2 separate regions of the Homo sapiens genome follow, and region 2 is linked to region 1. Evidence: fine-mapped expression QTL. A gene starts in region 1. The other region holds a variant in brackets. All regions are shown on one strand. Distances are from middle to middle.

The links. PIP is the estimated chance that this variant, and not a neighbour inherited with it, causes the effect.
Region 2: its variant is the best candidate, but not a certain one, in a credible set for the expression of MED10 in whole blood (TOPMed, PIP 0.75).

What each region holds. Positions count from the first base shown.
Region 1 is chr5:6,375,985-6,381,361 of GRCh38, forward strand. It overlaps MED10 (mediator complex subunit 10), which reads right to left and starts at 2,563. Exons shown (of 4, transcript NM_032286.3): 1 at 2,378-2,563; 2 at 1,182-1,265. The coding sequence starts at 2,499. RefSeq lists enhancers at 2,298-2,507, 2,798-3,017.
Region 2 is chr5:6,347,243-6,352,619 of GRCh38, forward strand. No RefSeq gene overlaps it. Among named protein-coding and RNA genes, the nearest start is that of LINC02145, 13 kb to the left of the region's middle. RefSeq lists an enhancer at 3,154-3,448. The variant A/C (reference allele first, on the strand shown) is at 2,488.

The DNA.
Region 1 (5,377 bases):
ATGCATCCCCTGCATTCATAATCAGAAGAGCACAAAGGAGGATGCTCTGTATTCCTGGACTGAGAAAGCCAAAGCTGAGTCTGGAGCTACCTGAGGTGCAAGACCTTCGTCCCACCTGAAGTCAGAGACCTCAGTGGTGCCCACTGAGCACAGGTAAGGAACATGGGGCAAAGTCATCAGCAGGTGAACAGAAGATCAGAGACCAAGAAAACCACCTCTGTGTCCTGTCTTTGTAGGCAGCTGCTGCACTATAGCTAGAACTTGTATCTCTGACCTTTTGGGATGGAAAACAGCCATAACTCTTTCCCTTTACTGCTTAACGAAATCTAGTGATTTACATTTGCAGTTTTGCTGCAAGAAATACTAGAATGTTCTTGCTGTTCCAAGCCAGCACCATCAGGGAGAGGCTGCTTTGCACTGGTCAAGAAAGTATGAGTCCGGGGGTTTCGTCTTAACTCTGACACTTACTAGGTAAACAACCTATTGCAGTTACTTATCAGGTCCTTCATGTGTGAAATCAGAGATGTGACCAAATCAATGCAAGAAAACCTGGATTTTAAAAATCTAAAAGCTCATTCCTGTATGTGTTCTCAGGACTATTACTAACATAGGTGCACACAACTCTCGCACAGAAAACAGTGAGCAGCCTCCCCAAACATACTTGGAATAAGAACCCTTTCTTTCCTCCTTCGACAGAGCAGATATTTTCACCTCTCAGAACTAGCACTCCACGGGCAGTTTGGGAACATCAGACCAGCTTGCTTTTCAGGTGCTTCTGGCTGCCATTTTTTAAAAATTTACAATATAGCCCTCATAGGACTTTTCACCTCTTAAGGAAAAAAGAAAGTTTTGTGGCTGTTCTTTAGCCTAAGCAGGGCTTTGAGGACCTATGATGTATTTCATATATTTAATAAGCTTTTATTTACATGTAACTTTTTTTCCACAATAGAATATTAAGGATATTCTTTTTTTTCGTTTTGTAATGCCATTAGAACGGAAGTTCCATAAGGGCAGGTATTTTTGTATTTTTGTCTATTTTTTTTTCCACTGGCACATCCCCAGCACCCAGGCTGTGCCTACCACACAGCAGGCACTCGAATGCCAGTGATGAAGAAGTCACGATACCACACCATAACTGAACAAGATTTATACCCAAGACTAATATCAAGAATGTTACTTACTCAAAAACTTCTAACGGTACAGTAATATCATGAAGCTGCTGTCTGCACTTGTCAATATCCTGTAAGCCAGTAACAATAAAATTCCTGGGGGAAAGGCAAACACACAGGCATCTGGTTAATTTCGCTTGACAGCATAAGCACCACCCACAGAGCTACCCAGCCAACCGGGGCTCCACGCAAGTTCGTTCTCCTCACAGCTATGCGGGTTACACACGGTTCTGACCTCTTTGGTTAGCTACAGGATTCCTAGGACACCGTTAGAGTTACAAAATACCCTTAAATATTTGTTACTTTCCTTCTCAACTAGAAATTGCCAGTAAGGGGGATGGAGAGGGAACCTGATGAAAAATATGAACCTTCTCTCAAAAACAATTACCTGACTGTGCATATGACTGTGTGTGCGGTTTCAGCGAACACATGAGGCAGCGGACTATACTCAAAGTCTGAGGGAAAGAAAGCCATACTGTCTGGTTTAGCTTCCTCTCCTCTCTGGAGCCTTCCTACAGCATCAGGCTGGTCTGGCTATTCCCACAGCACTAGGTATGGAACCTCGAGTGCAACATTTTCTATGTCCGTGCCACATATAAAGCCCTTCTCGAAAGTGCTGTACTTGCATTTGCCTTTTCTCCAACCCAGGGCCTAGCAACATGGGCAGCACAAGGCTGTTGCCAAGAAATAATAATAATAAACGTTCTGCAACCTTTCTCAGCACCACCTCCCCGCTATTTCCTCCACTGTCAGGCCTATGCGGCAGGTGGCTTCGGAGCCTCACCTTCTGAGGCCTAGTTTAGGGCGTGCACTCACTGTGGAGCCTGCCTCCCCTCTGGAGACAGGGACTGAATTCCCAGAAGGGCTCCAGGAGGAAAAGGCTGGGAGGGGGTTACACATGAGAGGGGAGACGCTAGAAGAGAAAGCATGATTCCCTTGATAGGGAAACGTAAAGTATATCATCTGGCCATGACGACGTCTCCAAAGGGGCCTCAAAGAGGTTGGCTCTTGGCAACAGGCTGGAGCGCGGGCCCCGCCCTCTGAACACAGCCAGGAAAGGCGCCCCGGGCTCCGGGACCAGACCAGAGGGCTGGCGGGGCACGAGTAGCGGTCAGGCTCGGCTCGGGCTCCCTAGATCCCCGCTCCCCTAGCACACGCTTCCCGGCCAGGCCCTGGGGAGACCCCGGCAGCCTCGGGCCGCCACTCACAGCTTTTGGTTGAGCCCGGCCTGGCTGCTGGGCTGGAAGTCACTGACGATGATGCCGAGCTGCCGAATGTTCTCCACGAACTTCTCCAGGTGCTCCTCTAGGTGGTCAAACTTCTCCGCCATCGCCTCGGCCCGTCCCCGACCCACACAGCCTCAACCAGCAGCGCCGCAGGCGTGGCCCTACGCTCCCGCTTCCTGCTTCCGTCCGGACAGATACGACTTCCGTTTCCTCTGGGGGAGCGCGGGCGAGCTCTTGGGGGCGGAGCCTCGTTATCGGGACGGGCGTGTTGGGGCGGGGCCTAAGTGCGGGGCAGGGCGGGCTTTCGGGGATGCGGTCTGGATTCTGGAGGAGGCCTCGGCGCGCAGCTGGGCGAGTACTAACTGTTTGCACTCTCATCAGACCTGCCTCGGTCATGGGAGAAGTTGAAGACTTTCTGCAATGCAGCATCTTCAAGCAATACACACATGGATGAAAATCCTAAAGTTTGCATGAAGGACCAATAACGGTAGTTTCCCTGCCCCTCTACCAGAACCCCTGGGATCAGCGCCTGCCTGCCTCCTTTCTTCTATGTAATCGGCGGCCACCTCCCCTAGCTCTTGCTGCTAACCATGCTTCCCGGACACCTGCTGCCTTCGTAGGTCAGGGTCTCACCTCCTCGGGCCAATTCTGACCAAACAGCACCCTGTGGGGTTGCCCTGTCTTAGTAAACTGCTGTTTATCTCATTGAAATTCAGTTTAGGTCATTTCACTCTTATGTTTAAGAAACTTTTCTGCCCGATCTCCTATGATAGCGGATATCTCCTCTAGCCTGTTTGAATTTCTCAAGTGATTTATTTTACTGAATATATTTGTGGCCTGTACTTTTCAGTGCCTAGAAACAGGCAAAGTGAGGGAGCTCCTTTGCTAGATGATCTTCAGAGCCTCTCCCAGCTGTGACCAGAAATGGAAAGCCAGAGAAGGTAAGTGACTTGCCAAACTTATGGAATCAGGGCACTCCAGTTGGTGGGCTGGGCTGATAAACAGAAATGTTACATAAAATACTTCTCTCCTGATTTAACAACAATTAACTTTAGGGAATTATAAAACAAGATGGAGGCTGGGCGTGGTGGCTCAGGCCTGTAATCCCAGAACTTTGGAAGGCCAAGGCAGGTGGATTACCTGAGGTGAGGAGTTCGAGACCGACCTGACCAATATGGAGAAACCCTGTCTCTACTAAAAATACAAAAATTAGTCAGACATGGTGGTGTGCGCCTGTAGTCCCAGCTACTTGGGAGGCTGAGACAGGAGAATTGCTTGAACCCAGGAGGCAGAGGTTGCAGTAAGCCGAGATCATGCCACTGCACTCCAGCCTGGGCAACAGAGCAAGACTCAAAAAAAAAAAAAAAAGGTGGAAATAAAATATTAGACAAATAAAAAATTTTAAGTTATTAGGTAGAGGTAGCGACATGGAGTGAACGGCCTTTCTCAATTTCATAAGTAAGAAAGATAGATAATTGATGGAACTTAGGCTTTGGTAAGTATTTATTTTAAAAATTTAAGGGTATCTCTTTGCTAGTATATATAATTCCCAAACTAGTAGACAGGGGGAAGGGAATAAAGAAAACACAATCAACTCAATAGAAGGCAAGAAAAGAAGAGAATAAAGAAGCAAAGAACAAGCATGGAAAATAAAACTCACAACGTAAAGTGCAAAAATTAAAGGCACACGACTCAACAGCAAAAAAGCAAAAGAAGAAATTTATAAATGGGCAAAGGACCTGAACAGATACTTCTCAAAAGAAGACATAAAAATGACCAGCAAAAATGCTCAGCATCACATATCATCAGGGAAATACAAATTAAAAGCATAATGAGATGTCACCTTACACTGTTAGAAGGGCTATAATCAAAAAGACCAAAGACAATGGGTGTGGGTGAAAATGTGGAGGAAAGGGAACCCTTGTACACTGTTGATGGGAATGTAAATTAGTGCAGCCTTTATGGAAAATAGAATGGAAGTTTCCCAAAACTCTAAAAACAGAATTACCATATGATCCAGCAGTCCTACTTCTGAGTATATACTGTGAACCCTGAATATCTGAGACAGTTCTCAGTTAATTTAGAAAGTTTATTTTGCCAAGGTTGAAGACACACACTCATGACACGGCCTCAGGAGGTCCTGATGACATGAGCCCAAGGTGGTCAGGGCACAGCTTGGTTTTATACATTTTAGGGAAACATGAGACATAAATCAATATGTAAGTGTAAGGTATACACTGGTTCTGTCCAGAAAGGCGGGAAAACTCAAAGCAGGGAGGGGGCTTCCAGGTCACTGGTAGGTGAAAGACAAATAGTTACATTATTTTGAGTTTCTGATTTGCCTTTCCAAAGGAGGCAATCAGATATGCACCTATCTCAGTGAGCAAAGGGATCACTTTGAATAGAATGGGAGGCAGGTTGTCCCTGAGCATTTTCCAGCATGACTTTTCCCTTTAGCTTAGTGATTTGGGGGCCCCAAAATTTATTTTCCTTTCACAATACTCAAAGGAATTGAAATCACTATGTCAAAGAGATATCTGTGTTTCCAGAAAGAGGTCCCAGTCCAGACCCCGAGAGAGTTCTTGGATCTTGTGAAAGAAGGAATTCAGGGTGAGTCCATATAGTAAAGTAAAAGCAAGTGTATTAGTAAAATAAAGGAATAAAGAATGGCTACTCCATAGGCAGAGCGGCCCGAGGGCTACTGGTTACTTGCTGTTATGGTTATTTCTTGATTGTATGCTAAGCAAGTGGTGGCTTATTTATGCCTCCCCGTTTTAGACCATTTAGGGTAACTTCCTAACAGGTCATGGCATTTGGAAACTGTCAGGGCAGTGGTGGGAGTATAGCAGTGAGAACTCTCGTTGCCATCTTGGTTTTGGTGGGGTTTAGCTGGCTTCTTTACAGCAAACTGTTTTATCAGTGAGGTGTTTATGACCTGTATTTGGTGCCGACCTCCTATCTCATCTTGTGACTTAGAATGCC
Region 2 (5,377 bases), 29 kb before region 1:
GGATTTCAAGTTCAGCTTCTCAAGCTTGCAAATGTGGCATCTCAAGGAGACCCACCAACCCGCCTGCCCCCATCTGCCCACCTGCCGAGGCTTGCTCAGTGCCAGCCCTCTCTGCTGCGGCAGCTCCAGCCTCCGCATCCTCCAGTGTCCAGCACAAGCACAGTTTCCCCACCTGGACCCCATTGCTGGCCTTCCCATGCTGATTTGGAGTGACATCAAGACACTCACACAGTGGCCAAGGAGAAGTTGAAGGGAGGTTTCTGAATGCATCTTTCCTCCCAAACATGCTGAGCAGTTCTGCAGGGCAGAACCAGGTCACTGCACATCCCCGTGTGTCTTTATTACGATTGCTTATAAAATGAATAAACGGTCTCCCATCCGAGTACTAACCAGGCCCGACCTGTAGTCCCAGCTACTTGGGAGGCTGAGGCAGGAGAATTGCTTGAACCTGGAGCGCAGAGGACCGGCTCGAATGTGAAAACATGGGCAGGTATTTGCTAGCAAGACAGGGAACAAGCGGCTTCCTGATAATAGAAACAGAGGCGGGGGCGATGCTGAGACCTGACCCCACAGTGGTCCCTGAAGAACGAAGGGTGGGCACGGCGACGTGAGGGCCTGGGGGGCCCAGGGAATGCGGTGGGACCCTGGAGGGCACGTAGCCACGCTGGGCAATTGTGATTGGGCTGCCACGCTGGCCTCCAAGCATCGCTGAGCACAGGGGCCATGATCAGAGGTGTGTTTGCGCAAGGCCATTGCAGCAGGGTGAGGAGGGTAGATTTGGACGCGAGTGGGAATGAGGTGAGGGAGGGATGAGGGCGGGTCAGGTGGTTGCTGCGGTCAAGTCCTGGACAGCAGGAGCAGTCTCCAGGGGTGCCTCAGAGCGGACTCTAAAGGCCATCGTGTACATCTCCTCAGCTGCGGTACAGACTACCCCAAGCCAGGCAGCTTAAAACAACAGAAATGTATTCTCCCGCAATTCTGGACCGCTCGGGTCCAAAATCCAGGCGTCGACAGGGCCGTGCTAGGGCTGGAGGCTCTGGGGGAGAATCCAGAATCTGCTCCAGGTCTCTCTCCCAGCTCCCAGGGGTGCTGGGAGCCCTGGAGCCCTTTGGCTGTGGACTCATCCCTCGGATCTCTGCCTCTGCCGTCCGTGGCCTTCTCGCTGTGTGTGTTCACATCGTCTCCCTCCGCCTGTGCTGTCTCTGGGTCTCTTCTCCTCTTGTAAGGGTAGCATTCAGGGGCTTAGGGCCCACCTTAAACCAGTATAACCTCATCTTAACTTGATGACATCTGCAAAGATCCCATTTCCAAATAAGGCCACATTCACAGGTATCACGGGTTAGGGCTTCGACATGTCTTTGTTGGGGACCCAATACCACCCGTAAGAGGCCTGGTGCTTGGCGGGGGCTGCAGGAGGCAGGGCAGAGCAGGGCTTCAGCCAAGGGCCAGGTTGGCCCGGAAGCTGGTTCGATTCCCTGGAAGGGGCCGAGGGCAGGAGGTACTGTTCCGTGTGGCTTTGGGGCTTCCTGCTGCAACGGGCTCCGGGCAGAGAGGCCTCCGCTGCCTGCCAAGGTTTTAGTTGCTGCCGCTTCTCCCTTATGTTCCTCCAAATCTCCCGCTGCCCCCATCTGAACCTCAGAAGCATGCTATGGGGGCAGGGGTTCCCGGTCCTCAGCTTCAGGAGGCTGGATCTACTCCTAACTGGGGTAATCTGTTTGCTTCTTTCCCAGGGGACAGGTTCCCAAAAGGCGTACCCAGAGCAGAAAGCTGAACATCTAACCAGTCTCTGCCTCCTGATGCAGACCGATGTTGTGGGAAGACCCGAGAGTCAGGACCCAGGCGTGTGAGAGTCCAGCCCCAGTCCTGCCCTGCAGGGCCTGTTCCATCTCACCGGGCTCCAGTCTTCTCACCTAGAAAATGAGGGCTTCTGATGCAAAGTCTCTAAGGAGCTTTTCAGCTTTAAAGCGTTCTGAATCCCATTTTCCCGCTGACTGACATTCTAATTTCACAGCGGGCTTATCTCCCCCTCAGAAGGGTCTTCAGCCGCAGCAGGGCCTTCCGTTTTTGCTTAAATCGCTCTGACCTTTTTATCAAGCAGTTCATAAACGCCCTTGCGCTAGGAGCGGCCGTCGCCCTGTGGTCCCCGGAGAGGGTCCTCCGAGGACTCTGAAAGCCGCTTCCATGGTTGGCGCCGAGCACAGGCGGCTCCCTCTGGCTTCCGCAGGCACGGACGGGGTTTGCCCAGAGACACCCTGCTCAGCACTGCCAAGCTGGAAAACAAGTGGGTGGGGGCAGCCGCCGGGAGGGGCCAGCAAACCGGGCCCTCATCCAGGAGCAAATTCCACCTTCAGTGCCTCACTTTTATCTCCAGATGGGCGCGTCCTTGTGAGAAACCACAGTATTGTCCCTCACCCATGAAGGGAGGCGTGGACGTGATCCCAAAGCCCCTATGTTAGACGGTCCAGCCTCACCTGAGCAGTCACATGG[A/C]CCTGCCCGGTCCTTTGACCTCAACACCACACACTTCCCACCCCTGCGGCAGGAAGGCGAGGCAGGAAGCATCCACACAAACCTGAGTATATCACAGTGGCACCACCAACGTGCCGGCTGCAAAGTTGATTTTCTAAACCAGAGGCAGCAAAATGGACCCGCTGGGGAATTCTTGTATCTTGCCTAGCATTTATATTAATATTTGGGGGTATCATTTAATTGATTAGTCATTACTGCATACAAGGTTATAAGAGTCGAGAAGTATAAAATCTATATGTTAAAATTTTAAGAAAAAAATGTCAAGTAGAACTAGCCAGACTGACATCATTAATCTGGTACCTGCACACACTTGTCTTATAAAGTGCGAGGAAAATGGATATTTTTCTTACATATTATGCAATTATGTATGGCATATTACCTGTCTCTGTAGCTTGAAAATCATTACACTGGTCAAGCTGTCCCACTAGTAAAAGCAGACGACCACTTCATAGGTTAAAAAGACATCTGCAAGCTATTTAATACTAAGCTTCATTCCATTAACCTTCATTTTTGTCTCAAAATAATCCTGACCATTTAATATATAACCCCTCACTCCAAAAAGCATTGATTGTACTGTGAAAACATGATTCTTCAGGCATGGGATTTGCTTGTTTACCAATTATTCTCCTTTCCTGGCTAGAACCCTAAAATAATATCAGCAACTGCTGGGAGGGAGGGAGGGAAGGGGAGGAGTCAGACTCGGAGGACACGTCTGACAAAGAGGCAAAGGAAGCTCCTTGCTGCTGCTGCTGTCCTTGCTGCTGTTCTGCCTGGGCTTCGTTTTACAGGATCAATGTTGGGGTGTCACCGGGTCAACGGCAGGGAGGTCTCTCAGCAGGGACACCCAGGCCCAGCGAACACACTGATGCACCGTGCTCATATACCGGCCGGTGATCACTTCGGCTTCTTTGGGGGAAGAATTTCCGGCCTGAGCCATCACATTCCAGGGAGTTCCTGAGGACAAAGGGTATCATGGAGTCTCTGGGCACAGCCCCTCGCTCCTCTGCAGGACCTGAATGGTCACCCCACAGCAACAGAGCCGGCACACCCTCAGCACGGCTGCAGCATAGCTCTTGTCCACTCCTTCTATGGCGAGCAGGATGGCATCACCCACGGGGCCTGCCGTACCCACCAGCAGCACCTAGAGAGGGACAAGAGGAGACAGGGCACTGCCTCCTCTGGGACAGGTGTCGAATGGAGTCAAGATCTCCTGATTGTCAGAGACCAAGGGGTCAAAAGGACCCATGCCCCCAGCACCTTCCCCAGCCTATGAGCAAGCCATGGTCCCATGCTTTCCTCCAAAGCCATGGAAATGGTACTGTGGGCAGGGAGAGGTCTCTTTAGCCACAGACACCTGGCTCCCCCTTCATCTTGAGGGCAATATTTCTCTGGTGGGTTGGAAGTGCTCATTACTCACATTGGGAATGACACTTCTGGGGTGCCCAGTGTCAGGGACTTTGGGAGGGATTGCATTCCTCTCAGTAAAGTGGCAGGGAACACAGAAGCTTATGGCAAGCGTTGGACCAAATACCAATGAAAATACCAGACAGAGTAGCTTACAAACACATTTCCAAAGAATTTCCCTTGTACTCATGGATGGAGTTCACCTACCTTTCTCTCAACACTGGACTCAGGCAATGCTGGAGAGTAATCCAATTTCATGCAATTCAATGAATACAGTGAGGCCAAGGGGGAAAAGCCCCCTCCTTCCCCTGAGAAGGCTCGCAGACCTCCAGGCAAGCAAAGTGCTATGATGGGCTGTGCCGTGCGGCACAGTGGAGGGCAGAAGAAACTCACGGCATCAGCAGGGCTGGCAGGGCAGGCACTCACAGTGAGGCAGGAAGGTGAGCTCGTTGTCAGGCACAGGAGACACAAGCAGGAGGTGAAGGAGGATCAATGGGGAGACAAGCCATGAGCCGCACTCCCTGGAGAGCCAAAGGGCTAGCAGGCAGAGGAAGAGGGTGGCAGGAGGGTGTGGCTGAAGTCAAGCAGGAGAGCAGCTTTGGGGAATGGAGACCAGGATGGGCTTCCTGGAAGAGAAGTAAGGGAAGTGAGGGAGCCAGTCTGCTGCCCACCAGACCAGAGTTCACTGGGCGGGAGGGAGCTGGGAATAAAGACACAGGACCCAGCAGTCCCTCTTCCTCCTCCTGCCCTCCCACTGCCACCCACACAAAATCAGCCATGGGACACTCAGGAAAAGGAGAGTCCTCAAAACGAAGACAACAAGAGACAGAGAAAAGGCAGCAGATATTTAGATGTGTATCTAAATATCAGGGGCAATAGACACATATCCCCCATTCTGACCTCACATTTACAAATTTAATTCCATATAGATTGTAAGTCTCACCATGAAAGGTGAAATAATAAAACTTTAAGAAAATATGGGAAAAGAAAAAAAAGCACTAAAACCACAAAAGGAAAAAAAAAGGTACATTGAGCCACATGAACATAAGAAGTATTATTCATCAAAAGACACCACTGAGAGGGAAATTCAGACCACAGAAAAGACATTCATAAGACACGCATTTGGCAAAGGACTTGGGCAAATCAACAAGAAAAATCCAATAAATCCAGACAATTCAAAGAAATGGGCAAATGACTTGGACAGGTACTATGCAGAAGAGGATAGCCGCGTGGCTAGTAAACAGATGAAAAAATGGTTGATATCTCCCACAGGGCAATGCAACACCCTGCACACGTGAGAACTACTGACGTGACAAAGGCAGTACCCAGCGTGGAAGGGAGTGCAACATGAGCTCTCATCTCTATTGAGAAAGCGTTCACTCATCCATTCCAGAACAGGGTTTGCAGGATCTACTGATGCTGAGAACACATCTCCCTATGGCCCAGA